Linked DNA regions of Homo sapiens. The protein of the gene in region 6 purifies or fractionates together with the protein of the main gene of each other region. This does not show direct contact. Each region holds a gene or a part of one and is shown on either strand. Other genes may lie near its edges. The genes, in order: SMPD4, IPO7, NUP88, RANGAP1, NUP155, NUP107 and WRNIP1.

Region 1 (4,230 bases), on a different chromosome or scaffold from region 6:
GAATAAAGGACAGCTCATTTAAGAGAGCTTCTGCCATAGCCGTGATGTTGTTGGGCGTTCTTACTGATGATCACAATGGTGTAATCACGGTGGTCCATCAGGCTGGAAATTTCCAGTTGATGCGTACAAACTCAGTTATACTCTGTGGTTTGTGAGGGGTGCCCTTACACAGTCAAGATCCTCTTCTGGCTGTGGGGCTGACTCTGGGACCAACCCCTACTTATGGATTGGTGGAAGTCAATCCTGTTCTGATCATGTGCAGCACTCTGAGGGGGTACTGGGAAACAAGGCTGATAGTTCCTGGTCCAGAGAGCATAGAACTACGGCCTCTCCTAGTAGTACTCTTTGGGCCACTGACACACATGAGGGGCTGGGGAACCAGGCCAGAGGTTATGGGTCTGACTCATAACCTATTGCTTGGATTTCTGTTTGACTCAAGCCAGAGTGCCACTAAAAGCTGCAGAGTGAATGTCCTCGTGACTTTTTCGCTTTGTTCTGTCTTCTAGGCTAGCCTGAAAGCTGACTCTATAAATAAGCCCTTTGCACAGCAGTGCCAAGACTTGGTTAAAGTCATTGAGGACTTTCCAGCAAAGGTATAGCTCTGCTAACGTCTCTCTTTGGAGCATGTCTTATACATTCGTTGAAGAACTTTATTATAATTCCTAATTTCCCTCCCCGCCCCAACCCCGAGCACTGCCTGGCACAGAGGCCTGGCCATTACCATGACCATTATGTTTACGGACACATTTAAACATGTGAACTTGTAGATCAGGGGTTCTCAGCCACAGATGCTCTGTTCCTCAGGGACACTTGGCAATGTCAGAGACATTTTTGGTTGTCACATCTGGAGGTAGATGGGGAGTGTGTGCTACTAGCTTCTAAGAAGTAGAGGCCAGGGTTGCTGGAAACATTCTGCAAAGCACAGGACAGCTCCCTGCGACAAAGAAGTATCTAGCCCAAAATGTCAACAGCACCAAGATTGAGAAACCCTGATGTAAATACTAAAAATATGTATTTAAATCACACCTGGAATTGTCAAGCCCAGGAAGCTGGCCTAGACAAGGAGTTAATACCAAATGGCAATAGGTCAGTTAGGTTTCAGGGGCTTCACTCTGGAAAGGATGTTGCTTTCCTTTCTGATAGAGCATCCTTCAAGTCAGAAGTTTCCATCACTGTTTAAAGAATCTTTTTTTTGTGGTGGCTCATGCCTGTAATCTCAACACTTTGGGAGGCCGAGGTGGGAGGATCACTTAAGCCCAGGAGCTCAAAACCAGCCTAGGCAACATACTGAGAACCTATCTCTACAAGAAATTTAAAAATTAGCTGAGTGTAGTGGTGTGTGCCTATAGTCCCATTTACTCAGGAAGCTGAGGTGGGGGGATTGCTCGAGCCCAGGAAGTCGAGGCTGCAGTGAGCCATAATTGCGCCACTGCACTCCAGCCAGGGCAACAGAGTGAGACCTTGTCTCAATAAATATGTATTTTGTTTATTTTTTTATTTTATATTTTTTTATTTTCATTGTTTGTTTTTTTTTAAATTTATTTATTTTTCTTAATTTAATCTTCTATCACACACAAAAAATGTATTTTGATCGGAGGCTGACTTACTTAACTGGCCCAAGTCTAAAGCAACACTGCTTGGTATGCCATGTACCCCACTGGAAGAACGTAAAGCTGCTCTTGTCGTTGGCACCATGGCACCAGGCTTCCTTTGGGTGCAGGGCTGATCCCATAGGTCTTAGCCAGGGAGTGGCTTCCTCAGAGGGAGCTGGGCAGCAGGTGGTGCAGGACTAGAGCCGGGGCAGGAGTGGGTGCTGGTCCTGCACGCGGCTTCACCACACATTGTTTCAGGAGCTGCACACCATCTTCCCATGGCTGGTAGAAAGCATTTTTGGCAGCCTAGATGGTGTCCTCGTTGGCTGGAACCTCCGCTGCTTACAGGGGCGCGTGAATCCTGTGGAGTACAGCATCGTGATGGAATTTCTCGACCCTGGGTAGGTAGGTTGGTCACCGGAGAGAGGCTGGGTGATTCCTCATGGTGATTCCACCTTTAAAGCACTCTCTGAATTTCTCAAGATTAAGAAACAATCAAAGCAAGATAATTCGCAGTTCATTTGCCCTGTTTTTGTTTGTTTGTTCAATTTCGTGTTCAGTGGCCCAATGATGAAGTTGGTTTATAAGCTTCAAGCTGAAGACTATAAGTTCGACTTTCCTGTCTCCTACTTGCCTGTAAGTAAACCACAGTGGCGAGAGTGGTGCTCGGGGCAGTGGGCCTTGCACAGCCCTGTGGTGATGGGCAATCTCCTCCAGTCCTCTGAGGGCAAATTGAGGAGCGATTCGTTCCAGGGGTGTGAGAGGCAAAGGAAATGGGTATTGCATGACTGCTACCCTTGCTGTCTGCAGCTCTTTATGAGATGATGGTAGGAGAAGTTCTAAGCAAAGACTCTTGTTCAGGCACTGCTCAGAGGCAGGGCACTGTCCCCACAGGTGGGTTCTGTGTGTGGGTCTCTTCCCCAGCAGCCTTCCCAAAGTGCTGCTGTGCATGTGGGGTACTGCGTATCGGGCACTACGCACCAGCACCTGCCCACAAGCCTCACTGCCTCTCTCTGCAGGGTCCTGTGAAGGCGTCCATCCAGGAGTGCATCCTCCCTGACAGTCCTCTGTACCACAACAAGGTCCAGTTCACCCCTACTGGGGGCCTTGGTCTGAACTTGGCCCTGAGTATCCTTTGGTGGCCCTGAGGTAGGGAGGCTGTGGGTGGCCCAGCACTTGACACTGAGCGGGGGGTGGCTCATCAACCCTGCATGTTTGCCCCTGACGCTGCTCTCAGATCCGTTCGAGTATTACATATTCTTCTTTGCCTTGAGCCTCATCACTCAGAAGGTAAGGAAGGGATGCCTTTTGCTGGGAGAGGTGGGGCCACGGCCCAGGGCTTCCCTGCACTTGTTGGTGCTTGGTGGCCTGGCAGTGTCCAGAGCCCATGCTAACAACTAGCTTGGTTTTCCAGCCACTTCCTGTGTCCCTCCACGTCCGTACTTCAGACTGTGCCTATTTCATCCTGGTGGACAGGTACCTGTCATGGTTCCTGCCCACCGAAGGCAGTGTGCCCCCACCACTCTCCTCCAGCCCAGGGGGGACCAGCCCCTCACCACCTCCCAGGTAAGGCTGCCCTTTGTTAAGACCTGGCCCTTCCATAAGGGAGTGGCCTGGTCACTTGCATCGCCCACGGGGACAATGTTGCCACCCTTTGTCCACGGTTCCCCAATTTTTCTTATGCCTCATTCCCCATCCCCAGCTGTCTTAGCACAGACTGGAGGGTGGGGTATGGCGGGCAATCTGTCCTTAGTGTTCAGTGTCTTTGGCCATCACTGAAGCTATCAGGTCCCTGGAGGCCTCCACGGCCTGCATGGGAATGGGCTGTGTTGTGCATGGAGCAGCCGTCCCCACAGGCGGTGTCTGAGTCAGTGAGCAGGGTGGAAAGGTTGTCCTATGAGCAAAAAAAATAGGAATCTCTATGGGCCCCAGGAGCAGATCTTGAAGGGGAGGCCCTGGGCCAAAGAGCCTGTTTTGTCAGTCCAAACAGGCTGAGCCTGATGCGTGCCTGCACAGGTTGGGAGTGTGAACCAGGGGCTCTCATGCCTGGCTGTCCTGGGTCCTCAGTGGGCACTAACGCAGGCCGACTTCCCAGGAGACCCTCTTGCCCCAGCAGCAGCTGCCTGTGCACCTCTGACCCTCTTTAATCTCACTGGCCCATCGCCTTCCCCAGGAAGCTGCATGCAGGCCCCTTCCTGCAGATGCTGGCCCACCCCAGATCTGCTGGCATGTGTAAGGCAGGCCAGGCCTTTACCTACAATTCACGTGTGGACAGATTCCCCAGAGGGTGGAGGGGAGAAAGGGAGTGGCAAGGAGGAGACGCTGCCCAGGTAGCGGCAGTGATCAGTGACCCTGAAATGTTGCTGATCCTGTGGAGGACTCGGAGGTGAGGCAGATTCACACCCTCTTAGATGCAGAATTCAGCTGCCAAGCAGTTTTTGATGCCTGGTTTTTTTGCTTGTTTTAACTTTTTGGGTTGTTTTAATTTTTTCTATTAGAAATTATATACGTAGGCTGGGAGTGGTGACTGATGCCTGTAATCCCAGCACTTTGGGAGGCCAAGGTGGAGGGATCGCCTGAGGTCAGGAATTCGAGACCAGCCTAGCCAACATGGTGAAACCTTGTCTACTAAAAATAC
Region 2 (4,230 bases), on a different chromosome or scaffold from region 6:
CCCGGGACGTGGAGTTTGCAGTGAGCCGAGATCACGCCACTGCAATCCAGCCTGGGCGACAGAGTGAGACTCTGTCTCCAAAAAAAAAAAAAAAAATCAGCTGGGCATGGTGGTGGGCACCTGTAATCCCAGCTACTTAGGAGGCTGAGGCAGGAGAATCACTTGAACTTGGGAGGCGGAGGCTGCAGTGAGCCGAGGTCATGCCACTGCACTCCATGCTCCAGTCCAGGCGACAGAGACTCCGTCTCAAAAAAAAATAAAAAAATAAAAAATAACAACCTTATGGAGTGTACAACTCAGTGGTTTTTAGTTTATTCACAGTTGTATAACTATCACCCCCAGAAGGAACTCTGTATACATTAGCAGTCACTCCACATATCACCCCAAATCTCCCAACCCTAGGCTACCTATAGTCCACATTTTTTCTATGGATTTGTTTATTGTGGACATTTTATATAAATGGAATCATATAATACGTAGCTCTTTGTGGGTGACTTCTTTCATTTAGTGTAATGTTTTCAAGGATTATCTGTGTTATAGCAGGTTTCAGTACTTTTTCCTTTTTGTTGCCAAATTATATTTCATTATATTAATATACCACATTTTATTTACTCATTCATTAGTTGTTTCTACTTTCTGGCTGCTTACAAATGTTGCTGTGAACATTCATGTTTAAATTTTTATGTGGACATACGTTTTCATTTTTCATGGGTATATACCTAGGAGTATGAATTGCTTGTCATAATTTGAGACACCGCAGAACCCATTTTCCAACGTAGCTATACCATTTTATATTTCTGCCAGCAGTATATTTTGATTATAGCCATCCTAGTGAACGTGAAGCATTATGTCTTTGTGGCTTTGAAATTTTTCATGTGCTTACTATCCGTTTGTATATTTTCTTTAGAGAATATCTATTCAAATTCCTTGCCCCAAAAAAATTGCTTGCCTTTGTTTTTTTTCTTTTTATTTTTTGAGATGGAGTCTTGCTCTGTCACCCAGGCTGGAGTGCAGTGGTGAGATCTTGGCTCGCTGCAGCCACCAGTCTCCCACATTAAAGTGATTCTCCTGCCTCAGCCTCCCAAGTAGCTGAGATTTCCGCCTCCCCGCCCCCCCGCCATATGCTGGAGTGCAGTGGCGCAATCTCGACTCACTGCAACCTCTACCTTCCGGGTTCAAGTGATTCTCATGCCTCAGGTGCCTGCCCCCAGCCTAATTTTTGTATTTTTAGTAGAGATGGGGTTTTGCCATGTTGGCCAGGCTGGTCTCAAACTCCTGGCTTCAGGTGATCCGCCTGCCTCAGCCTCCCAAAGTGCCAGGATTACAGGCGTGAGCCACTGTGCCTGGCCCTTGCCCATTTTTAATTGGGTTATTTGTCTTTTTATAATTGAGTTGTTAGAAATCTTTACATTCTAAAGCCAGGCACTAAGTACTCACAGAATATTTAGTCATTGTGTCTTTTATCTTTTCGTTTTTTGGAAATGGAGCCTCGTTCTGTTATACAGGTTGGAGTGCAGTGGCGTGATCTCTGCTTACTACAACCTCCACCTCCTGAGTTCAAGCGATTCTCCTGCCTCAGCCTCCCGAGTAGCTGGGACTGCAGACACCTGCCACCACACCAGCTAATTTTTGTATTTTCAGTAGAGATGGGGTTTCACCATGTTGGCCTGGCTGGTCTCGAACTCCTGACCTCAGGTGATCCACCCGCCTCGGCTTCCCAAAATGCTGGGATTACAGGCGTGAATCACTGCACCCGGCCGTCTTTCATCTTTTCTATACCTGTTCACCCATCCTTCTCTTTGTTTATAAAGTATGTATTAAAGACATTCTAATCATTTGTGGCATAGAAGGCTGAGAATTAGTGAGTTCTCTTGGCAAATTCAAGTTTATCTATTCTTACCTTTCACTCAGCTTCACTTAGTGGTAATACCTTACATAGGTAGGCAAAGTTATCAAAAACATGAAGTTGATTTTGGTATGCTACTATCAACTAATCCATGGACCTTTTTAAAGTTTCACAAGATTTCCCACTATGTCCTTTTTTCTGTTCCATGACCCAGTCTAGGGTCTCACATTGCATTAAGTTGTCATGTCTGATTATGTAAGTGTTGATATATAAGTGTCTTATGTTTTTAATGTTGATTTAATGTGCAGTTTAAGGAACTCTTCTAAAAAGCTTCTTTCCACTTAGAAAATACTCACTTTGAATACTGAGAGTGCCTTTTTAGAGAATCACTTGAATCTGGGAGGTGGACATTGCAGTGAGCCGAAATTGTGCCACTGCACTCCAGCCTGGGCAACACAGCAAGACTCCGTCTCAAAAAAAAAGAAAAAAAAAAGAGTGTGCCTTTTTAGATAGCCAGTTTATTCGTTTGAAAGCAGGATTTTTCTCAGGTTATGTTATTTTCAGCCAGAAACTTTATCAGACAAGTTTTTTCCTTATAAAAGTTTCATAGTAACAGATAAAATTAACCAAACTTACATCATTCGAACACTATTGCTGGTAAGATTTGGCATAATGGCTTTCTAATCAAGGAATATAAAAACGTGAAAATGTGTTTAGTGGTTTTTGGTGGTGAAGTTCTGGAATACGAAAATTGGTTGTGGATTCTGGGGTTCAAAGAATGAGAATAAATATATGTAACATTAATAGTCATTTTTAATAGTGTTATATCTGTTTGGAAATTGAGATGATTATATTTGGAACTGTATCAAAATAACTGTTGTTTATATTTACAGAAAAAGATCTATAAAGATCAGATGGAATACATGTTGCAGAATCATGTATTCCCTCTCTTCAGCAGTGAACTAGGCTACATGAGAGCAAGGGTATGTTTTAAAGCTGCATTATTTATATACTTTTGTCTTGTAATGAATGACTCTGTGGACTTTTATATTGAAACTTTTAAATGTTCACTTTGAAGCCTGTGTCTTATTTTAGGTTTCTGTTTAATGTAAATCTTTACATGGCTGCTGTAATGTGTGCATAGGTTTCATCTGTGTCTGGTAGCAGTGTCTGTCTGTGTTTTTCATTCAGATCTTGCTATCCACACAAACATCATGCGGCCAAAGAGTAACTTGGGATCATAGTACTGGTCTAGTGTTGTCTCTGGACACATCTACCACTGGCCAGCCTCCAAATTCCCACACACAGAACTCAGGGAATAGAGATTAGCTTGGGGGAATTTAAGGTAAGGTATCTACAGTAACTCACTGTGTTTTTACAAAAGGCTTGCTGGGTACTTCACTATTTTTGTGAAGTGAAGTTCAAAAGTGATCAGAACCTTCAAACAGCCTTAGAGCTAACAAGAAGATGTCTGATTGATGATAGAGAAATGCCTGTGAAAGTGGAAGCTGCCATTGCCCTTCAAGTATTGATCAGCAATCAAGAAAAAGGTAAAGGATTTTTGTATGTCAAGAAAAGTGAATGTTGGCCAGGTGCGGTAGGTCACACCTGTAATCTTAGCACTTCGGTAGGCTTAGGTGGGAAGAGCGCTTGAAGCCAGGTGTTCAAGACCAGCCTGGGCAACATCTCTACAAAAAAAATTTTTAAAAATTAACTGGACATAGTGGCATGTACCTGTAGTGCCAGCTACTTGGGAGTCTGAGGCAGCAGGATCACTAGAGCCCGACGGTTCGAGGCTGCAGTGTGCTACGATTGCCACTACCCTCCAGCCTGGGCAACAGATCAAAACCCTGCCTCTTATAAAATATATATATATATATTAATTGTAAAAAGCCATAATCCTAGAAACTTGGCATACTTCCTTTTTATGTGAAAGTACTTTTTTAAAAAACTCATCGATATTTGTTATATCAGGTTTTAAGAAGTTTTAGGGGTTTTACGCAAGTTTTTTACTCTTTCTCTTACAGCTAAAGAATATATCACACCATTCATCAGACCTGTAATGCAGGCTCTTCTTCACATTATAAGAGAAACAGAAAATGATGACCTTACCAATGTAATTCAGAAAATGATCTGTGAATATAGTGAAGAAGTTACTCCTATTGCAGTAGAAATGACACAACATTTGGTATGTTGTTTGAACCTACCATATTTGCAAGCATTTTAATGTAGCTCTCAGTATGTTCCAGGTTGTGTCACCAGTGGCTTGCCTTACCTTATAGCAGTCAACCTTTTTGGCACCTGGGATCGGTTTCATGGAAGATAATTTTTCCACAGATGGTCCGGGGGAGATGGCTTTGGGATGAAACTGTTCCACCTCTTAT
Region 3 (2,895 bases), on a different chromosome or scaffold from region 6:
TTTTGCAACGTAGTGTTGCCAATCCAGCATTTTTGAAGTATGCAACCTTGGGCATAGCGGTTTTATGAATGGGTTCTCTTCTGTCTTCAGAATTACTGTGCATCCTTTCTGTCCTCATCTGTTTCATATACTTTTTACTGTGATAAATTTGGAAGAAACTGGATATATTTGATCAGCTAGTGAATGGGGAGCAGGAGGGAAGTGGCACCTGAGAATGATAAACAGGAAGTGTTTAAAAAGAAGTTAGGCTAGGCCGGGCGTGGTGGCTCACACCTGTAATCTCAGCACTTTGGGAGACCAAGACGGGTGAATCGCGAGGTCAGGAGATCGAGACCATCCTGGCTAACACAGCAAAACCCCATCTCTACTAAAAATACAAAAAAAAATTAGCTGGGTGTGGTGGCAGATGCCTGTAATCCCAGCTACTTGGGAGGCTGAGGCAGGAGAACCGCTTGAACCTGGGAGGCAGAGGTTGCAGTGAGCTGAGATCCCACCACTGCACTCCAGCCTGGGCGACAGTGAGACTCGTCTCAAGTTAGGCTGGGCACGGTGGCTTACAGCTGTAATCCCAGCACTTTGGGAGGCCCAGGCAGGCGGATCACCTAAGGTCAGGAGTTCAAAACCAGCCCGGCCAACATGGTGAAACCCTGTCTCTACTAAAAATGCAATAATTAGCCAGGCGTGGTGGTGGGCACCTGTAATCCCAGCTACTCGAGAGGCTGAGGCAGAAGAATTGCTCGAACCTGGGAGGTGGAGGTTGCAGTGAGCCGAGATAGCACCAATGCACTCCAGCCTGGGTGACAGAGCGAGACTGCATCTCAAATAAATAAATTAAAAATATAAAAAGTTTAAAAAGCACCTGTGACTTGAGTCTATTTATTTTCAGTTGTTTTACTCAGCTAAGGAAAATAAAGGTAGAAACTTTGTTTTTAAGAGCTTCTGAAAAGGACATAGCCCCTCCTCCTGAAGAATGCCTTCAGCTCCTCAGCAGAGCCACCCAGGTGTTCAGAGAGCAGTACATTCTCAAACAGGACTTGGCAAAGGAGGAGATTCAGCGGAGGTATGATGTCCTGTGTTCACAAACCATCGATCCCTGGCTGGTAGCTGATGCTGTATGGTAGCCTAGACCTGGCTTCTGAATAAACTCTATTTCTTTTTGTTTTTAAAGGGTCAAATTATTATGTGACCAAAAAAAGAAACAACTAGAAGATCTCAGTTATTGTCGAGAAGAGAGGTAAGTGTCAAAAATAAGAAGAATACAATAGGTCAGTAAGACTGGAACCATATTCTCACCCTAAGATGCTGAGCCACATTAGGTGGTTTCAGCATCAAGGGGTGGACCTCAAGAGTCTCTTGTGTCTTACATCATTAGGAAAAGTCTGCGGGAAATGGCTGAGCGTTTAGCTGACAAATATGAGGAAGCTAAAGAAAAACAAGAGGATATCATGAACAGGTCAGTGGGCTGTATAACATTTAGTTACCTAGTCAGGTACTAACAACGATATTTAAGAAAATGGGCATTGGCAGGTGCTTACATACCTACGGAACTGAACTGATCCCCCTGCCTCTCCTCTGAAGTATATGTTGGGGAAAACATGAGGCTCTCCCCTAACCCTTCCTATGGGGCCTACTTCAGAAACACCAGATTCATGAATTATGAGCTTGTGATTATGTTTCTCCTAATTAGTAGAGACCTTAAATTGAGATGTTTGCTTGCCTTTTCTAAAGGATGAAAAAACTACTTCACAGTTTTCACTCTGAGCTCCCAGTTCTCTCTGATAGTGAGCGAGACATGAAGAAAGAATTACAGCTGATACCTGATCAACTTCGACATTTGGGCAATGCCATCAAACAGGTAGGAATAGATCCAAACTAGCTAAATTTGGTAATTTTTCTTAAAGCACTTATTCTACAGAAAATTTTACAAAAATGTAAAAAGAACAGATTCAAATAGATACTGTGAAAATGTGTGGCAAACCACTGCCAAAATATCTATTATTTTAATACTTAAGGTTACTATGAAAAAGGATTATCAACAGCAAAAGATGGAGAAGGTGTTGAGTCTTCCAAAACCCACCATTATTCTCAGTGCCTACCAGCGAAAGTGCATTCAGTCCATCCTGAAAGAGGAGTAAGTAAATACTTCCAATCAGCTATTATCGTGAGATAGTTTTTCCTTTACAGTATGCCAGAATCAACCTGTCTTAATAGAAACCTGAATCTTGGTATTTGCATGTCAAGTAATTACTGGGATGAGAGCCACATGATACATAGGGACTTAAGAAATGACTATGGTGGGAGGATTGAAAGGGATGACCTTCTAGTAACATGATTTTGTTGTGTGGCCAAAGGTATTTTACAGTAATTATGTTCAAAAATATTTCCAGTACTTGCACCGTTTGCCACCTTAAATGAATAGTGAACACTATTGCTATCCACCTGAAACCTTCAGCTGTTAATTTTAGCAAAGCAGTTCTTAGATGTTTCAACATTACCAGTTTAAATTCTTAAGAATCCATATAAATGGTTTATTATAATTCCAAAAGTGAGTGACTTTACAATTTTACAGGGGTGAACATATAAGGGAAATGGTGAAGCAAATCAATGATATCCGCAATCATGTAAACTTCTGACACCACCAGGAGCTGACTCACACCTGAACTGAACACCATTGAAGGCTTAAACCCATATTGTAAAACAGGTAGAATTATCTAATTTATAAAAAGGTGTTTTGATGACCTTTGGTGTGGTTCATCTTTTTAAATATGTTGTTTTATAATAATTGAGTAAATGCTTTTATTTAAAATTTGGAATGTGCTTTATAACTCAAGCCTACAGTTGTGTTCAGCAAGGACTCAGGATTATTTCACACTGCACACTGCCAGAACCTCCCTG
Region 4 (4,230 bases), on a different chromosome or scaffold from region 6:
AAGCAATTCTCCTGCCTCAACCTCCCGAGTAGCTGGGACTAAAGGCGTGTGCCACCACGCCCAGCTAATTTTTGTATTTTTAGTAGAGACGGGGTTTCACCATGTTGGCCTGGCTGGTCTTGAACTCCTGACCTCGTGATCCACCTGCCTCGGTCTCCCAAAGTGCTGAGATTACAGCCGTGAACCACCACTCCCGGCCCCCCAACCCCCCCCTTTTTTTTTTAAATCACATACTAAATGTGTCATTTAGAACATATGCTTCAAGAGGTCAGGGTTTATGCTTCCTTTACTGCTATACTGCTGACCTGGAACAACATCCAGCACACAGTAGTAATCAATGTGTTTTTGAATGAATGAGTGGACACCTTACCCAGGATAATAATTCATGCTTATTGATAAAGGCAGACAAACCAGGGTTATAAGTTAGAACCCAGAGGAAGCCTAGGGGTGGGAGGATTCAGGGTATCACAACTGTATCTGAGAATGAGGAGGTTGTAGGAGGAGGCCTTTCGGATAGCACCCCCTAGTTCTGCCCCTCATATCTGCTTCCTTGGTCTCTCCTGATTACTTGCTGTTTCTTTTCTTTTTTTGGAGCATCTCACAGATACGTTTATTCATACCACAAAGTAAACACTATTCAGGTATGTAGTGATGTTCCACGTTCCTGTCTAATATAGCTGGCTTCAATTTATAGGCAGTACACATTGAGACATTTAATCTCACATGTACTCCAAGTAAAGCTGGAGTACCATGAGCAGGCGCAGGAGTTCTCAAAGCTTTACTTGTTTTAAAAATTTTCATTTATTGGCCAAGCGTGGTGGCTCATGCGTGTAATCCCAGCACTTTGGGAGGCTGAGGCGAGTGGATCACGAGGTCAGGAGATCGAGACCATCCTGGCTAACACACGGTGAAACCCTGTCTCTACTAAAAATACAAAAAAATTAGCTGGACATGGTGGTGGGTGCCTGTAATCCCAGCTACTCAGGAGGCTGAGGCAGGAGAATGACATGAACCTTGGAGGCGGAGCTTGCAGTGAGCCCAGATGGCGCCACTGTGCTCCAGCCTGGGCGACTGAGCGAGACTCCGTCTCAAAAAAAAAAAATTCTTTCATTTATTTAGTTACTTTTAGAGATAGAGCCTCCCGCTGTTGCCCAGGCTGGAGTGCAGTGGCAGTCATAGCTTACTGCAGCTTTGAACTCCTGGGCTCAAATGATCCTCCTGCCTCAGCCTCTCCAGTAGCTGGGACTGACTACAGGCACGTGCCACCACACCCAGCTAATTTTTATTTTTATTTTTATTTTTTTGAGACAGGGTTTTACTCTGTCACCCAGGCTAGAGTGCAGTGGTGAGATCATGGCTCACTGTAGCCTCTGTCTCCGGGGCTCAATCAATCCTCCCACCTCAGCCTCCCCAGTGGCTGGGATTACTGGTGCACACCACCATACCCTGCTAATTGTATTTATTTTTAGTAGAGATGGGATTTTGCCATGTTGCCCAGACTGGTCTTGAGCTGCTGGGCTCAAGCGATCTTCCCATCACAGCTTCCCAATGTGCTGGGATTACAGGTGTGAGCCACTGTACCTGGCCAGCTTTACTTCTTTTACCAGCACTCCTGATTTTATAAATAGTGAGGCTTATCAACCCCATTTCTACCCAAATCTTCTGGTAGACTTGAGTATAGTAGGGCTTCATAGGTAGCAGCCCTGTCCCTGTCCTATTATGATGGTAGCTGTTGTGATGTGGCGATCTCTGATCTAGAAACCCCTGAGGGGCCATTGTGGCCTGCCCAGTCTCCCGGCCACGGTTGAAACCAGACGTGCAGTGGGGCTGACCCCTGTGCCCCACCCCAGAGTCATGCCAGCGTGGGTGGTGGGGCATTCTCTGGGATGAATGATCTGGATCCCATAGCCATCTGTGTCCTGTTTGAGGAATGGGACCCTCAAACAGAGAACAGCCAAGATGCTCAAGCAGGTGTGTGCTTGGGCCAGACTCTGCAGCCTTTGGTTTGGGACTTGACTGCCATTCACTGAAGGGGCCCAGGAAATGGGCAGCTCACATGGTGTTGCTGGGTGTCCAGCTGCGGCAGTTTAGCAGAGGAGGACTTGTAATGAGATGGTAGCTTCTTATAGGCTAAGACATGATTTTTCTGTTCTTTTACTACCTCCTGCACCTTCTAGAACTGTTCCTTCTCTGATGCTGTTTTCCTTTCTTCCAGTGATTTATCTCTAGGGTCTCCATAGCAGGGGAGGTAGGGTCAGACTCCTGAGATGGCTGATGTCCTACCCTGCCCCCAACCAGGGGCCCCAGGAGACTCCTTTTTCTTACTGCAACTTTGGCCTCCTCAGTCTGCAGATCTCCAGGGGAGCCCACCAGCCTAGTCAACATGGCCTCGGAAGACATTGCCAAGCTGGCAGAGACACTTGCCAAGACTCAGGTGGCCGGGGGACAGCTGAGTTTCAAAGGCAAGAGCCTCAAACTCAACACTGCAGAAGATGGTGAGTTTCTGGAAGTTGTGCACTGGTGTGTCCAGGGGAGGAGAGGGAGTGTACTGAACTCTTACTGGTTGTCAGGCTCTTTCTGCTACATTGTCTCCATTATTTGTCCCAGCAGCTCTGTGAGGTATCATTGGGCCTATTCTAACAATGAGGCTCAGAGATCATTTGCCCAGGAGCAAGCTCCCCTGCACTTTCCATGTTTGTATTGGGCATCCCTTTGTGCCCTGCCCTTTCTTTCTCAGGAGGGGATGATAGGTAATGAGGGGCCACAGTTAGTGCCAGTCCCAAGATACAGCCTCTGACTCTGACTTAATATCCGGTGTTGTCCCCACCCTTGCCCTTAACCCCCATGATCCCAGGCAGGCCTGGGAATAGCTGCAGCTTTCCCCAGAGCTGAGGCTCTGGTGGAGCTGCATTAAAACAACCTGGGCCCTCTTGGGAGATGCTGGTTCATGCAACCAGATGTACCTGGGAGAGGGATGGCTGTCTGTGTGTATACAGGTATTGCAACCACAGAAAACTAGGAACCAGAGAGCAGACCCTGTCTTTTCATCCCTTGTCAAGGCTTGGCTGCCACTGACCAACCCTGAATCACCTGGCACCTGCAAGTGAAGGCACCTGCATCAAGTGAGGCCTCCTGGGATTCTGGCCCAACCAGGGGAACTGGTCTGGACATGCCTGGTTGTCATGTTGTGTAGGCAGCCTTGTTCTCCTCTCCAGGTCGGAGGCTGCTTGAGTCCTTGGGTAGCTGGGAGCGTGCTGATGCATGTTCCTAACATCTCCATAAGGTCTAACGTTTATAGACTTCCTCCCTGTGCATTTATCACTTTTTTTTTTTGAGATGGAGTCTCTGTCACCCAGGCTAGAGTGCAGTGGCACGATCTCAGCTCACTGCAAACCTCTGCCTCACGGGTTCGAGCAGTTCTCCTGCCTCAGCCTCCTGAGTAGCTGGGATTACAGGCGCCCACCACCACACCCGGCTAATTTTTGTATTTTTAGTAGAGATAGGGTTTTGCCATATTGGTCAGGATGCTCTCGAACTCCTCATCTCAGGTGATCTGCCCACCTTGGCCTCCCAAAGTGTTCGGATTACAGGCGTGAGCCACTGTGCCCGGCTTTTTTTTTTTTTTTTGAGATGAGTCTCACTCTGCCACCCAGGCTGGAGTGTAGTGGTGCGATGTTGGCTCATTGCAACTTCTGTCTCCCAGGTTCAAGCGATTCTCCTGCCTCAGCCTCCCAAATAGCTGGGACTGCAGGCTCACACCATCACGCCTGGCTAATTTTTTTTTTTGAGACATAGTCTTGCTCTGTTGCCCAGGCTGGAGTGTGGTGGTGCAATCTCAGCTCACTTTAACCTCTGCCTGGGTTCAGGCAATTCTCATGCCTCAGCCTCCTGGGTAGCTGGGACTACAGGTGTGTACAACCATGCCCAGCTAATTTTCTTTTCTTTTTGTTTTTTTTTTGAGATGGAGTCGTGCTCTGTCACCCAGGCTGGAGTGCAGTGGTGCAATCTCGGCTCACTGTAAGCTCTGCCTCCCTGGTTCACGCCATTCTCCTGCCTCAGCCTCCTGAGTAGCTAGGACTATAAGCACCCACCACCATGCTCCGCTAATTTTTTGTATTTTAGTAGGGATGGGGTTTTACCATGTTGGACAGGCTGGTCTAGAACTCCTGACCTCAGGTGATTCGCCCGCCTCAGCCCCCAAAGTACTGGGATAACAGGCGTGAGCCACTG
Region 5 (4,230 bases), on a different chromosome or scaffold from region 6:
CCTCCCGGGTAGCTGGTATTACAGGCGCACGCCACCACGCCCAGCTAATTTTTTATTTTTTTATTTTTTTATTTTTTTTATTTTGAGACAGAGTCTTGCTCTGTCACCCAGGCTGAAGTGCAGTGGTGCGATCTCAGCTCACTGCAAGCTCTGCCTCCCAGGTTCACGCCATTCTGCCTCAGCCTCCCAAGTAGCTGGGACTACAGGCGCCTGCCACCATGCCCGGCTAATTTTTTTGTATTTTTAGTAGAGATGGGTTTCACCATGTTAGCCAGGATGGTCTCAATCTCCTGACCTCATGATCCACCCACCTCAGCCTCCCAAAGCGCTGGGATTACAGGTGTGAGCCACCGCGCCCGGCCATTGCCCAGCTAATTTTTGTATTTTTAGTAGAGGTGGGGTTTTACCATGTTAGCCAGGGTGGTCTCGATCTCCTGACCTCAGGTGATCCACCCATCTCAGCCTCTCAAAGTGCTAGGATTACAGACATGAGCCACTGCGCCCAGCCGAAATGTATAACTTTTTAGCATTAGAGTTTCAGTTCTTGTCCAGTTCAATTACTGTATGTTTTACATTGCTTTCTGGATTACATTTATTTTTCAGATATTTAAAATTTTTTATTGAGTTTTAAGGTATAATCTGCTTACTTTTTAAAAAATTACTTTAAATCAAATCTAACATAATGTAAAGGCCATAACTATTTGCACAGGTATTATTTTGAATCCCAAGGTATTTTTTTCCCCCCAGTAGGGAACTAAAACTTTCCTTTTTGTTATTTGAAATAGGATCTTTTTTTTCCAATGAAGAAATATATATATATATATATTTTTTTTTTTCCTTTTTCTTTTTTTTTTTGTGAGACAGAGTCTTGTTCTGTCACCCAGGCTGGAGTGCAATGGTGCAATCTCAGCTCACTACAACCTCTGCCTCGCTAGTTCAAGTGATTCTCCTGCCTCAGCCTTTTGAGTAGCTGGGATTACAGGCGCATGCCACCAGGCCCAGCTAATTTTTGTATTTTTAGTAGAGGTGGGGTTTCACCATGTTGGTCAGGCTGGTCTCGAACCCCTGACCTTGTGATCTGCCCCCTCTCAGCCTCCCAAAGTGCTGGGATTACAGGCGTGAGCCACCACACCTGGCCCCCAATGAAGAAATATATTTAACAGTTGCCTTTTAGGCATATTAAGACCTTTTCCTTCTGAAGACCTATCAGAAATATTTTATGTTAGCAGGGTGACTATTGTACAGTAGAGACATAACCTTGATCATTATTTTCATGTGCCAGCTAAGGAAAAATGTATCCAACTTAGTAGTAAGTCATAGGTCTTCATTCTTTTCTTTCCCATCAGTGAGATTTTATGAGGGTGTGGTGGAACTTTCTCTTACGGCTGCAGAGAAAAAAGATCCTCAAGGTCTTGGGCTTCATTTCTATAAACATGGAGAACCAGAAGAAGACATAGTTGGACTTCAGGCCTTCCAAGAAAGGTGCATTCCATTACGTTAGCAGATTGTCATCTTTATGGATACAGACTTTTCTTTGCATAATGTTTTTTGTTTTTTGTTTTATGTTTTTTTTTTTTTTTTGAGACAGAGTCTTGCTCTGTCACCTGGGCTGGAGTGCAGTCGTGTGATCTTGGCTCACTGCAATCTCTGCCTCCCAGGTTCAAGCTATTCTCGTGCCTCAGCCTCCCATGTAGCTGGGATTACAGGTGCACACCACCACGCCTGGCTAATTTTTGTATTTTTAGTAGAGACAGGGTTTCACCATTTTGGCCAGGCTGGTCTTGAATTCCTAACCTCAAGTGATCCACCCACCTCAGTCTTGCAAAGTGCTAGGATTATAGCCATCAGCCACCGTGTCTGGCCTCTTTGTGTAAAGGTCGACCACCCAAAGTGCTGGGATTACAGGCATGAGCCACCATGTCCAGTAGGATTTCATTTTAAAGGATAATTTTTAAGTATTCCCAAATTTGTTGAGACTGTTAAAAAGGAAATGTGTGTCCTTAAAAGAAATATAGGCCAGGCACAGTGGCTCACGCCTGTAATCCCAGCACTTTGGGAGGCTGAGGTGGGCAGATCATGAGGTCAGGAGTTCGAGACCAGCCTGGCCATCATAGTGAAACCCTGTCTCTACTAAAATACAAAAATTAGCCAGGCGTGGTGGTGCACACCCGTAATCCCAGCAACTTGGGAGGCTGAGGCAGGAGAATTGCTTTAACCCGGGAGGCAGAGGCTGCAGTGAGCTGAGATTGCACCACAGAACTCCAGCCTGGGCGTCAGAGCAGGGCTCCGTCTCGGAACAAAGAAGAAATATATAACCTTTCTATAACATATATATATGGAGGGTGTTTTGTTTTGTTTTTGTTTTTGTTTTTGAGACAAAGCTTCACTCTGTCTCCTGGGCTGGAGTCAGTGGCACCATCATAGCTCACTGTACTCTTGACCTTTTGGGCTCAAGTGATCCAGTGATCCTCCTACCTCAGCCTCCTGAGTAGCTGGGACTACAGGCACATGTCACCACACTCGGCTAATTTTTTTTTTCTCTTTAATTTCTGTAGAGACAGGGCCTCACTATATTGCCCAGGCTGGTCTTTAACTCCTGGGCTCAAGCAATCCTTTCTTCTCAGCCTCCCAAAGTGCTGAGATTAGAGGTGTCAGCCACCACATCTGGCGAAAACATATTTTTTTATTACTATATTTAATGACTTTACCCTTTTAATGTTTAACCAAACACTTCTCAAACTTATTGAAAAAGTATATGGTTTGTATTATTTTAAATGCCAAATATGTACATCTATTCTGCCAAATAGTCTTGAAATCCTTGTATATACTTAGGTAAGGTAAATCAATGGCTTTCTTTTTTGTTATTTGTTTTGTTTTGTTTTTGGGGGGTTTTGTTTTTTGTTTTTGAGACAGGGCCTCATTCTGTTGCCTGAGCTGGAGTGCAGTGGCATGATAATAGCTCACTTGCAGCCTTGAATTCCTAGGCTCAAGCGATCCTCCTGCCTCTGCCTCCCAAGTAGCTGGGATTACAGGTGCACACCGCCACGCCTGGTTAATTTTTTGTTTCGTTTTGTTTTGTTTTTTGTTCGTTTGTTTTTTGAGACAGGGTCTTGCTGTCACCCAGGATGGAGTGCAGTGGCATGATCTCAGCTCACCTCAACCTCTGCCTCCCAGGTTCAAGCAATTCTTGTGCCTCACTCACCTGAATAGCTGGCACTACAGGCATGCACCACCAAGCCCGGCTAATTTTTGTATTTTTGTCAGATACGGGGTTTCACCAGGTTGGCCAGGCTGGTCTCAAATTCGTGACCTCTGGCAGTCCCCCTGCCTTCGTCTCCCAGAGTGCTGGGATTACAGGTGTGAGGCACTGTGCCCAGCCAATTTTTTTGTATTTTTTGTAGAGACGTGGTCCCGCTCTGTTGCCCTGGCTAGTCTTGAACTCCCAGCCTCAAGCCGTCCTCCTACCTTGACTTCCCTATGGCTGGCATTACAGGCGTGAGTCACCACACTTACCATCATTTGCTTTCTAGTTAAATAATGTAATTGTTCCTTTTCCATTTTCTTTCAGATTAAACAGTTACAAATGCATTACAGACACACTTCAAGAACTGGTAAATCAAAGTAAGGCCGCTCCTCAGTCTCCCAGTGTACCCAAAAAACCTGGTCCTCCAGTGTTGTCATCTGATCCAAATATGCTGAGTAATGAAGAAGCAGGACATCATGTAAGGGACATAGTATATTTTCATTCTGAGAATACACTGTTTAGAAGTTCTCCATGGTAATGGTAGCACAGTCATCTTGGGGAAAGGTGGTAGTTCTTAGAAGTTATCATGTAAGGATTCTTGATTTCTTACTGGAGTTTATAGGGCTAAAGGGTTGTGATGCCCAGAAACAGAGCCTTTAACTGCTAATTTTTACTATTTTCTTTATTTTAGTTTGAACAAATGCTTAAATTGTCACAGCGATCCAAGGATGAGCTCTTTAGTATTGCCCTTTATAATTGGCTAATACAAGTCGACCTTGCAGATAAGCTGCTACAGGTAAATCTTTTTTTATTGCAGTTGTGTTAATTATTCTTAAGGAGCATAACTCAATGATTTAAGCACATATATAGATGTAAAAAATTCAGTTTCTCATCCCATGCCTGCTATTAGATGTTAGTATAAAGCTGAGTAATGCAGTATCTTTTCCTAAGGGGCAAAGTAGGCTACTGCTCCAATTTTCTTGTTA
Region 6 (4,230 bases):
GGTATTACTTCTGGACAGAAAATTTTGTCAAGTAGAAGAATAATTGAGAATGGCAAGAGCATTTTGAAAAAGAACAATCTGGGTTTGGTGGCTCACACCTCTAGTCCCAGCAGTTTTGGAGGCTGAAGCAGGAGGATCACTTGAGCTCAGGAGTTTGAGACCGGCATGGACAACATGGCAAAACCCCATCTCTACAAAAAAAATTTTAAAAATTAGCCGGGTGTGGTGGCATGCTCCTGTAGTCCCAGCTTCTCAGGAGGCTGAGGTGGGAGGATCACCTGAGCCCAGGGAGGTGGAGGCTGCAGTGAGCCGTGATTGTACCACTGCACTCCAGCCTGGGCAACAGAGTGAGACTCTGTCTCAAAAACAAACAAACAAACAAAAAAAACCACACTGAAAGCAAAAAAAGTAGTTAGAGGGTACTTGCCTTACTCAATAATAACACTTAATATGAAGATACAACAAAACAGTATAGAACTGACATGAAAATAAATAGATGAGTGGAACACAAAGTCCAAACTAGATCCAAGTATATATGAGAACTTAACAGATGTCAGAGGTGACATTTCATTTCAGAGGGAAAGGGATGGTTTATTTAAATAAATGGCGCTGGCATAATTGGCTTTCCATCCAGAAGAAAACAAAGCTAGATCCTACTTCATGCCATGTAACTAAAATAAATTCCATATAGAGCAAAGGTTTGAATGTAAAAATTAATAAATGCTGAAAGAAAATTTAGACAGCCAACTAAATAAAAATTAAAATACGTTTGACAACAAAAAATGAACTATATTCTTCAAAAAATCAAGCTGCAAATAAGTTAGAAAAGGTTTTCTCTACTCTGTACCTGATCACTATTTTTTTTTTTCACCCTTGGTGCCATGTACAGAAGAGAATACTCAAAGAATGCTTTCATGTACTGCTGCTCATGTTGAAAGAAATCTTAATAGTTTATTTTGCTTAGGTCACATGAGTTCTTCCTTTCTCGTCCACCATGTGTAGTGCCAAGGTAAATAGGAATAAAATATAAGAATAAAAGTTTAATACCATTGAGAGATTAAATTGTTATAACATAGGTCTCTACTTTCAAAGATGCTTTTCAGTTCTGGATTTGTAAGCTGTGAGTATATTCCAAAGGCAGTATCCTTTCCATGTTTTATTTTGTTTTGATCTTTCTAAGGCCCTTCATTTCCAGCTTTTTCTTTCTATATGTTCCTTCAAAAGTTTAACATTTTTAGTTTAACAGTGAATATATACTACAGAATGACTGCTAGAAGATTTATGGAAAATTAAAAACTTTTTTTTCAGAGAGTTCTGGAAGAGAATCAAGAACATTATCATATAGTTCAAAAGTTTCTTATCCTGGGAGACATTGATGGTAAGATATGGTTTTATTTTACTTTGTGTTTTTTGTGTGTGTTTTTTTTTTTTTTTTTGAGACAAAGTCTCACCCTGTTGCCCAGACTGGAGTGCAGTGGCTCAGTCTCAGCTCACTGCAACCTCTGTCTCCTGGGTTCACAAGATCCTTCAGTCTCAGCCTCCTGAGTAGCTGGGATTACAGGTGTGCACCACTACGCCTGGCTAATTTTTGTATTTTTAGTAGAGACGGGGTTTCGCTGTTGGCCAGGCTGGTCTCCAACTCCTGACGTCAGGTGATCTTCCCTCCCTGGCCTCCCAAAGTGCTATATGTTATAGACATGGGATTGCAGGCATGAGCGACTGCACCCAGCCAGTTTTATTTTACTCTTTATGAGTTCTTCATTGTCTTATAGTGATTTTTTAAAGTTATCCAAACAATGCATGTGACTTACCATATCTTTTAATCTTGATAAATATTAACCTATTTGAATGCAACTATTTACTTTATGTCAGAGGTGACCTTTCATTTGGTTTTTATAAAATAAAGTTCGGATTGAACCCAAACTCTGTTTCAAAGAGGGTGTAGAGTTATATCATGGCTATTAATTATGAGACAGTGACTTGAAAGCACTATAGGAGTGAAATAAATGTTCTTGGTAATGTTTATTTTTTTCTTTTGATTTTATTCCTATTGTTGAATCTTCACTTTGATGGCTTGTAGGTTTGATGGATGAGTTTAGCAAATGGCTTTCCAAAAGCAGAAACAATCTACCTGGACACCTGCTTCGCTTTATGACTCACCTTATTTTGTTTTTCCGTACTCTGGGACTACAGACCAAGGTATATAAAAATGAACGATTTCTTCTTCTCTGTAATGTTGATGCTATATACCTATTGTCAAGAAAACACTACTTTTTTTATTATTGTTTTCTAGAAATGGTGATAAGGAATCAAAAGTCTTCCATATAGTCTTGTATAGTCACTCAATGATAACTCACTGAGAGTGGCCCTTTAGGGTTCTAGTCTGTGGCCACAGAATGCTGTTGGTTAACTGGTTTTTAATAAATTCATAACTTTATCCTTGTCTGTACCCAGCTTTAAATCAACCAGCTAAGCTAACTAAACAAAGTGAGTGCTATGTGAGATTTTAAAACTTTGTTGGTTGTTGTTTTGTTGCTTTTTTTCTAAAAAAGAAGATAACATTTTGGTCAGAGTGCATGTAGAAAGTGAATGATACAGTAGTTGAAAGCTTGGGCTTTGGAGTAGGAGTCCTGAGTATATACCCTTATTCAGCAGCTTCTATCTGTGTAACTCTGGGTAAATAAAACTTCCCTTGGTCCTAATTTCATCCTCTGTAAAATGTGAACAATAATAGTAACTACCCAAAAAGAGTTATGGTAAGGTTAAATCAGGCAGTAGATGAACTTTGGTAAGCACTTAGCTTGGTGTATAGTTACTGCTCAGTGGTAAACATTACAATTATTAAATTATTTAATAATGGAATTTGTATCAAAAATTTTGTTACTTTCATATAAGCAGTGTATTTATAATTATGTCTTTTTTTCCTATGAAGGAGGAAGTTTCTATTGAAGTTTTAAAGACATACATACAGGTAAACTTTGAGAACCTACAACCTGATTGTTTTTTACTATTTTAATGAAAACAAAACTCAGAATGATGCTATTTTAATTCTCAGTGGTAAGAAAGCATCAGAATCCATAAGAGATCTTTTAATTATCAGCACAGTTGACCTTTGAATAATGCAGGGATTAGGAAAACAACCCCCACCGCCCCGCACAATCAAAAATTCACTATAACTTTTGACTCCCCAAAAACCTAACTACTGATACCCTACTGCTGACCAGAAATCATACCAATAACATAAACACACAATTAACACATTTTGTATATTACATGTATCATATGCAGTCATCCCTCAGTATACTTGGGGGATTGGCTCCAGGACCCCCACATATAACAAAATCTGTGTATACTCATGTCCCACAGTTGGCCCTGCAGAACCTGCATATACGAAAAATTGGCCTTCCATATTTGCAGATTTCACATCCAGATAACACTGTATTTTCTAAGTTGAGTTGAAAAAAATTTATGCAGAAGTGGACCTGCACAGTTCAATCCCGTGTTGTTCAAAGCTCAACTGTACTGTATTCTTATGATAATGTAAGTTAGAGAAAAGAAAACATTACTAAGAAAATCATAAGGGGCTCGGCGAGGTGGCTCATACCGGTAATCCCAACACTTTGGGAGGCAGAGGCGAGAGGACTGCTTGAGTCCAGACGTTTGAGATCAGCCTGGGCAACATAGGGAGACCCTTCTCTCTACTACAAAAAATTTTTTTAAATTAGCAGGGCACAGTGGTTCATATCTGTAAACCCAGCTACTCGGGAGGCTGAGGCAGGAAGATCGAGTGAGCCCAGGAGTTGGAGGTTGCAGTGAGCTGTGATCTCGCCACTGCCCTCCAGCTGGGTGACAGAGTGAGACCATCTCAAAAAAAAAAAAAAAAAACAATCAGGCCAGACGTGGTGGCTTGCGCCTGTAATCCCAGCACTTTGGGAAACAGAGGTGGGTGGATCGCTTGAGCCCAGGAGTTCAAGACTAGCCTGGGAAACAGCGAAAACCTGTCTTTTTTTTTTTTTTTTTTTTGAGACGGAGTCTTGCGCTGTCACCCGGGCTGGAGTGCAGTGGCACCATCTCGGCTTACTGCAGCCTCCGCCTCCCAGGTTCAAGCGGTTCTCCTGCCTCAGCCTCCCGAGTAGCTGGGATTAAAGGTGCTGGCTAATTGTCTGTATTTTTAGTAGAGATGGGGTTTTGCTATGTTGGCCAGGCTGATCTTTAACGCCTGACCTCATG
Region 7 (4,230 bases), on a different chromosome or scaffold from region 6:
GCATAGAACCACATGGTAAAGACAAATTGAAAGAAAAGGGGGGAAATCCTAACATGTTTCATGTTTCTGTGTGTTCTTTGCTCTGTGTACTGGTTATCGTAATGTATCTGCAACTTAATATTCTGCATGTGTACTTGTCTGGGGTGATTTTTATTGATTTCATGTCATCAGTTCATGAAATAGAACATGAAATCAATAATTAATATTGATGACATGAAGTCAATAATAATCAGTTGTTACTCAGATACCCTCAGGTTTTTTCACCTCTCCCCAGTCACTGCCGTGCAGGAATTTAAAGGAAATGAGAAAGGCGGCAGCCAAGGAGCTCATCCTTGTGAGAAGAATTTCTATATTTTATTATTAAAAATCCTCAGGTGATTTGCAGGCACATTAAAGTTTGAGAAGATCAAGTGAAATAATTAAGATTTAGTTATTGAAACTGATATAACAATGAGCTAGAGATTGTTTATCTGCTAAAATTGCTTTTCAGAGAAAACTTCCCATATCCAGTAAATGATTTACTATTTCCACTACCGCTTGCTTAGACTTGATCCCAATTATATTTGCTATCTTGTGTCCCCCGCTTTCCTGGGAAGACTGTGAGGACAGGAGCTTGTCCCTGTTCATATCCCCAGCACAGTGCCTGGCACACATTATGTGCTTTGTGAATGGTTTGGAAATGAATAAATCCTAGCTTTCGATATGAGAAAAGTAGTTTAATATGTTTTGCATTATCCAGCATAAGGGATAATTACCCAGGTATCAAGAGCCTTTTTCTTTAATACTATTGCCCTTTTCATCAGCAGCAAGCAGAGTAAAATGAAAGAATGTTAAGCTTAAAACCATTAATTGGTCAACTTGTTAGCAATTCTAACAAGAAGTTAAGTTAGGAGATATCATAGGCCACAGAAAGAACTCTTACAAGTGATTTCCGAATACAAGTACCTGCCACCCCAACTGTCAGGGATAATTAAGAGTGGATTGGGATGTCTTTTAGTTGTTTTAGGTAAAATTTTGCTTTCCAATCCCTGTTGACAGCTCTATATACATCCTTGTGCATATAAATCAGATTTGGTGACACTAATCTAGTTGAAAGAAAAGACTTCCAACCCCATATACTTACTTTCTCTCTCCAGGAAGCTATTGGTGTGCATTTGTATTCTTGTGTCATGTTTTGGTGCCCTAGATAGCAACTAGAACATTTACAGAGAAGTCCCAGGCTGTTGAACTGCACGTGAGAGGAGGTGAGCAGGGCACTGGATTTGGAAACTAATCAAGCTGCCGCTTAGCCGTTCTTGATTGCACTTGAGGAATTGTGAGTTGTCACACAGTATACTCATGTAAGTGATAAATTCCCATTAAAGTGAAATAAGTGTTCTTTTTTTAAAAAAAAATTCCCTCCTGTAGTTATTATTCAGTCAAAATTGAAGCTCCTGCATATGCTAGGCATTGGCTGAGGGTTGAAAAGCTTGTTCCTGTGCCTTCAGAGGGAGCGCAGTATGATGAAGGCTAGGGGAGCAGGTCCACTTCCAGTGCCACGCTTATACGCCAAGTGCAGTGGGCGTAGAGAAGCAGCATTCAGAATATGTGAAATCCAGTATTTCACCTCCTAGATGAGGGGATGCGGAGTTGAGTTTTGAAGGATAAGCAGAATTTAACTGAGTGAAATAGAAAGCTCATTGTCTACGCCATAGTTGCTTTGGTTTGTATGGCTAAGCAGTAGTGTTCAGGTATTTTGCTCTCCCAAAAATATTTGGATCACATGATACAAACAGTGAAGATTCTGTCTGCTCTGGGTTAATTTTGGAGGCCAGGAAAAAAATGTCCATGATTCATGATACGAAGAATGAGCTTGTGCTGCTGAAAATGAAAAAGTAAGCTAGCATTTCGTCATCCTGCACTACTTGCTGCTTTGAAGGAATATAGATTCCTAGGTCATAGAATATATACATAGTCAAAAACACTCCTAAAGAATCAATTATTTGTGAACCAGATAGAGTATACAAGTCTTTGGAGATCAAGAGAGTGAAATGAGAAGCCATAACTGCCCTCTGCCTAGCTAGGCTGAGTTCCGAGAGGTGGTTGGAAGACAGAAAGTGGCGTCTGTCCCTGGGTAAGGGCTGTGGCGTAACTGGGTGTGGGGCTTTTCTCTAATCATCTGGAGAGGAGAGCCCCTGACAAGCTGGCCCCCAAACAAGGTGGCTATGGATTCTTCTTTTTATAAAAGTTTAAAGTGTCTTAAATAACCTTTTGTGCCATTGAATAGAAAGAAAGGTAGTGGAACTCCAGAATACAAGGGATTGGCCAGAATAAATGGTTGGTATAGAGTAGATGTCAATCTTTTTATTTAAAAATTTTTTAAGTACATTAATACAGTACATTAACATAGCTGTTTTAATACAAGGGTGCATTAAAATAATGCCATAAAAGCACCAGCAGCCAGAACCACAGATCTCATGGTCCTTGGATGCACTTCCTGTGGCTGCTGTAACAATTGCCACAAACTGGGTGGCTCAGAACACAGAGCTTTATCCTCACAGTTCTGAAAGCCAGAAGACCAGAATCAAGGTATCAACAAGGCGATGCTCTCATCCAGCATCTGATGGCCCTTGGCATTCCTTGGCTTATGACTATGTCACTCCAGTCTCTACATCCATCTTCACATGGTGGCCTTCTTCTCTGTGTCCTTACGTCTTCTCTTTTTCTGTGTTTTGTAAGGACATTTGTCATTGGATTTAAGGTACACTCTAAATCCAGGATGATTTCATCTTGAGACCCTTAGTTACATCTACAAAGACCCTATTTCCAAATAAAGTCACAGTCACAGGTTCCAGGGATTAGGACTTACATCTTTTGGGGTCACTATTCAACCCACTACAGACCCCTACCAAGTATAATGTAATTTGGAAAGACATGTGCCTCCATGGGATTAAACAGAAAGACGTCGTCATCTGAAATGTACCTTCTCTCTTTGTGGAGAAAGTCAGTTTTGTTTTGCTTTGCTTTCACTCTGATGTTATGGAAGCGGCAGCATCTGGGGCTCTGCCTTGGATATGTGCAGTTCTGGAGAGTATGCTGTTGCACAGTCTGATGAGGGTGATTCTCCTCGCTGTTGATACCAAAGCAGTATTTGTCGAGTCTCATGACATGGCAGGCACTGCTCTAAGCATTCCACATGTCTTAATCTCATTCAGTCCTCAATACAGCTCTGCAAAGTAGATCTCATTACCTCCTATTTACTAGATGAGGAAACTGAGGCACAAAAAGGTTAAGTAACATGCCCAAGACCAACCAGCTTCAATGTGATGGAGCCAGTGTTTAAGGCATGTCTCTGTCTTCTCAGTGACTTCAAGTGCTACAAGGGGTGGAGGTGCCAAGTTTACAGAGGATGGACCCACTGCTCGGTTTTTCTGTTCTGACTTTTCTCTCTTGGCACTTCTTTGTGTAAGAGCAGCAGGAGAGCCTTTTAACCAGATCTGCACATCACACTTCCCTGGGATACATTTTAGAAACATGCCTTGCCCAGGGTCTGCCCCTGGAGATTTGAGCTCAGTCTATGGTAGGTAAGGTACATGTGGCTGTATTTGTGTCTAACTTGATGCATATCCCTGGTTGAAACTTCTACACAGCAGTTATCACCCTGACCATGAAATGTTCCTTTTCCTTAGTGGAAGAGATTTGTGGGGTTTGGTTTGTAATTTAGAGAGGGAGAGTTTAACCAAGCCATGCATATTCTTTCATTCTGCCTTGAAATAACAGGTACATTTTTACTTACTGCACTCCTTCTCCAACTTACATATCCAGCTGTCTAAGTAGTATCCTCCAAATTCCAGTATTACCCAATGTGTAGAAAGCTTCAGGATTTAGGCACCTGGAAGAGGAAAGAAGAGAGCTTCCTATATTCTTCTGTTAAAATTAAAGCCCTTCTCATCAGTTGGAGAAGCCAAGCTCTCTTAAGTCTGTTTCTATCTCTAGGTTTTGTTAACTAGAAATAGAATCTTTTCCAATGCATTTATTTTAACCAATTTTCCCTTATTATAAATAGTGTTTTATTATAACAACATAATTTACTTCCTATTGTTTATTTCCATGTAGGATGTTATGACATTTTGGGCAGTCTATCCCCAGAATAGATTTTACCTCTTTTTATTGTATTCTACCTTTGGAAGGTTATTTTTAAGTGCAAAACACTTTATAAATATATGCTTAATTTTAATATATGCTTAAATT

The links.
Region 1: the proteins of NUP107 (region 6) and SMPD4 purify together in Homo sapiens (affinity purification with mass spectrometry; one large-scale study listed by BioGRID and IntAct). This does not show direct contact.
Region 2: the proteins of NUP107 (region 6) and IPO7 purify together in Homo sapiens (affinity purification with mass spectrometry; one large-scale study listed by BioGRID and IntAct). This does not show direct contact.
Region 3: the proteins of NUP107 (region 6) and NUP88 purify together in Homo sapiens (affinity purification with mass spectrometry; 2 studies listed by BioGRID and IntAct, with this or other methods). This does not show direct contact.
Region 4: the proteins of NUP107 (region 6) and RANGAP1 purify together in Homo sapiens (affinity purification with mass spectrometry; one large-scale study listed by BioGRID and IntAct). This does not show direct contact.
Region 5: the proteins of NUP107 (region 6) and NUP155 purify together in Homo sapiens (affinity purification with mass spectrometry, with the first as the bait; one large-scale study listed by BioGRID). This does not show direct contact.
Region 7: the proteins of NUP107 (region 6) and WRNIP1 purify together in Homo sapiens (affinity purification with mass spectrometry; one study listed by BioGRID). This does not show direct contact.

Annotation. Positions count from the first base shown.
Region 1 is NC_000002.12:130,171,277-130,175,506, reverse strand, and holds part of SMPD4 (sphingomyelin phosphodiesterase 4), read left to right. Parts: intron 1-506; coding exon 507-593; intron 594-1,850; coding exon 1,851-1,993; exon of another isoform or gene 1,994-1,997; intron 1,998-2,152; coding exon 2,153-2,228; intron 2,229-2,611; coding exon 2,612-2,720; intron 2,721-2,829; coding exon 2,830-2,882; intron 2,883-3,006; coding exon 3,007-3,158; intron 3,159-4,230. UniProt on the Homo sapiens protein: Catalyzes the hydrolysis of membrane sphingomyelin to form phosphorylcholine and ceramide. It has a relevant role in the homeostasis of membrane sphingolipids, thereby influencing membrane integrity, and endoplasmic reticulum organization and function.
Region 2 is NC_000011.10:9,425,801-9,430,030, forward strand, and holds part of IPO7 (importin-7), read left to right. Parts: intron 1-2,739; coding exon 2,740-2,829; intron 2,830-2,965; exon of another isoform or gene 2,966-3,154; intron 3,155-3,230; coding exon 3,231-3,396; intron 3,397-3,873; coding exon 3,874-4,034; intron 4,035-4,230. UniProt on the Homo sapiens protein: Functions in nuclear protein import, either by acting as autonomous nuclear transport receptor or as an adapter-like protein in association with the importin-beta subunit KPNB1.
Region 3 is NC_000017.11:5,385,944-5,388,838, reverse strand, and holds part of NUP88 (nuclear pore complex protein Nup88), read left to right. Parts: coding exon 1-37; intron 38-886; coding exon of another isoform or gene 887-934; coding exon 935-1,060; intron 1,061-1,168; coding exon 1,169-1,234; intron 1,235-1,372; coding exon 1,373-1,453; intron 1,454-1,728; coding exon 1,729-1,855; intron 1,856-2,012; coding exon 2,013-2,131; intron 2,132-2,498; exon of another isoform or gene 2,499-2,569; coding exon 2,570-2,633; 3' UTR 2,634-2,895. UniProt on the Homo sapiens protein: Component of nuclear pore complex.
Region 4 is NC_000022.11:41,279,198-41,283,427, reverse strand, and holds part of RANGAP1 (ran GTPase-activating protein 1), read left to right. Parts: exon of another isoform or gene 1-641; intron 642-1,784; exon of another isoform or gene 1,785-1,886; coding exon of another isoform or gene 1,887-1,971; intron 1,972-2,215; exon of another isoform or gene 2,216-2,345; coding exon of another isoform or gene 2,346-2,383; coding exon 2,384-2,495; intron 2,496-4,230. UniProt on the Homo sapiens protein: GTPase activator for RAN. Converts cytoplasmic GTP-bound RAN to GDP-bound RAN, which is essential for RAN-mediated nuclear import and export. Mediates dissociation of cargo from nuclear export complexes containing XPO1, RAN and RANBP2 after nuclear export.
Region 5 is NC_000005.10:37,304,549-37,308,778, reverse strand, and holds part of NUP155 (nuclear pore complex protein Nup155), read left to right. Parts: intron 1-1,346; coding exon 1,347-1,482; intron 1,483-3,568; coding exon 3,569-3,722; intron 3,723-3,935; coding exon 3,936-4,040; intron 4,041-4,230.
Region 6 is NC_000012.12:68,724,419-68,728,648, forward strand, and holds part of NUP107 (nuclear pore complex protein Nup107), read left to right. Parts: intron 1-1,308; coding exon 1,309-1,378; intron 1,379-2,080; coding exon 2,081-2,199; intron 2,200-2,932; coding exon 2,933-2,971; intron 2,972-4,230. UniProt on the Homo sapiens protein: Plays a role in the nuclear pore complex (NPC) assembly and/or maintenance. Required for the assembly of peripheral proteins into the NPC. May anchor NUP62 to the NPC. Involved in nephrogenesis.
Region 7 is NC_000006.12:2,771,802-2,776,031, forward strand, and holds part of WRNIP1 (ATPase WRNIP1), read left to right. Parts: intron 1-1,136; coding exon of another isoform or gene 1,137-1,197; exon of another isoform or gene 1,198-1,250; intron 1,251-4,230. UniProt on the Homo sapiens protein: Functions as a modulator of initiation or reinitiation events during DNA polymerase delta-mediated DNA synthesis. In the presence of ATP, stimulation of DNA polymerase delta-mediated DNA synthesis is decreased.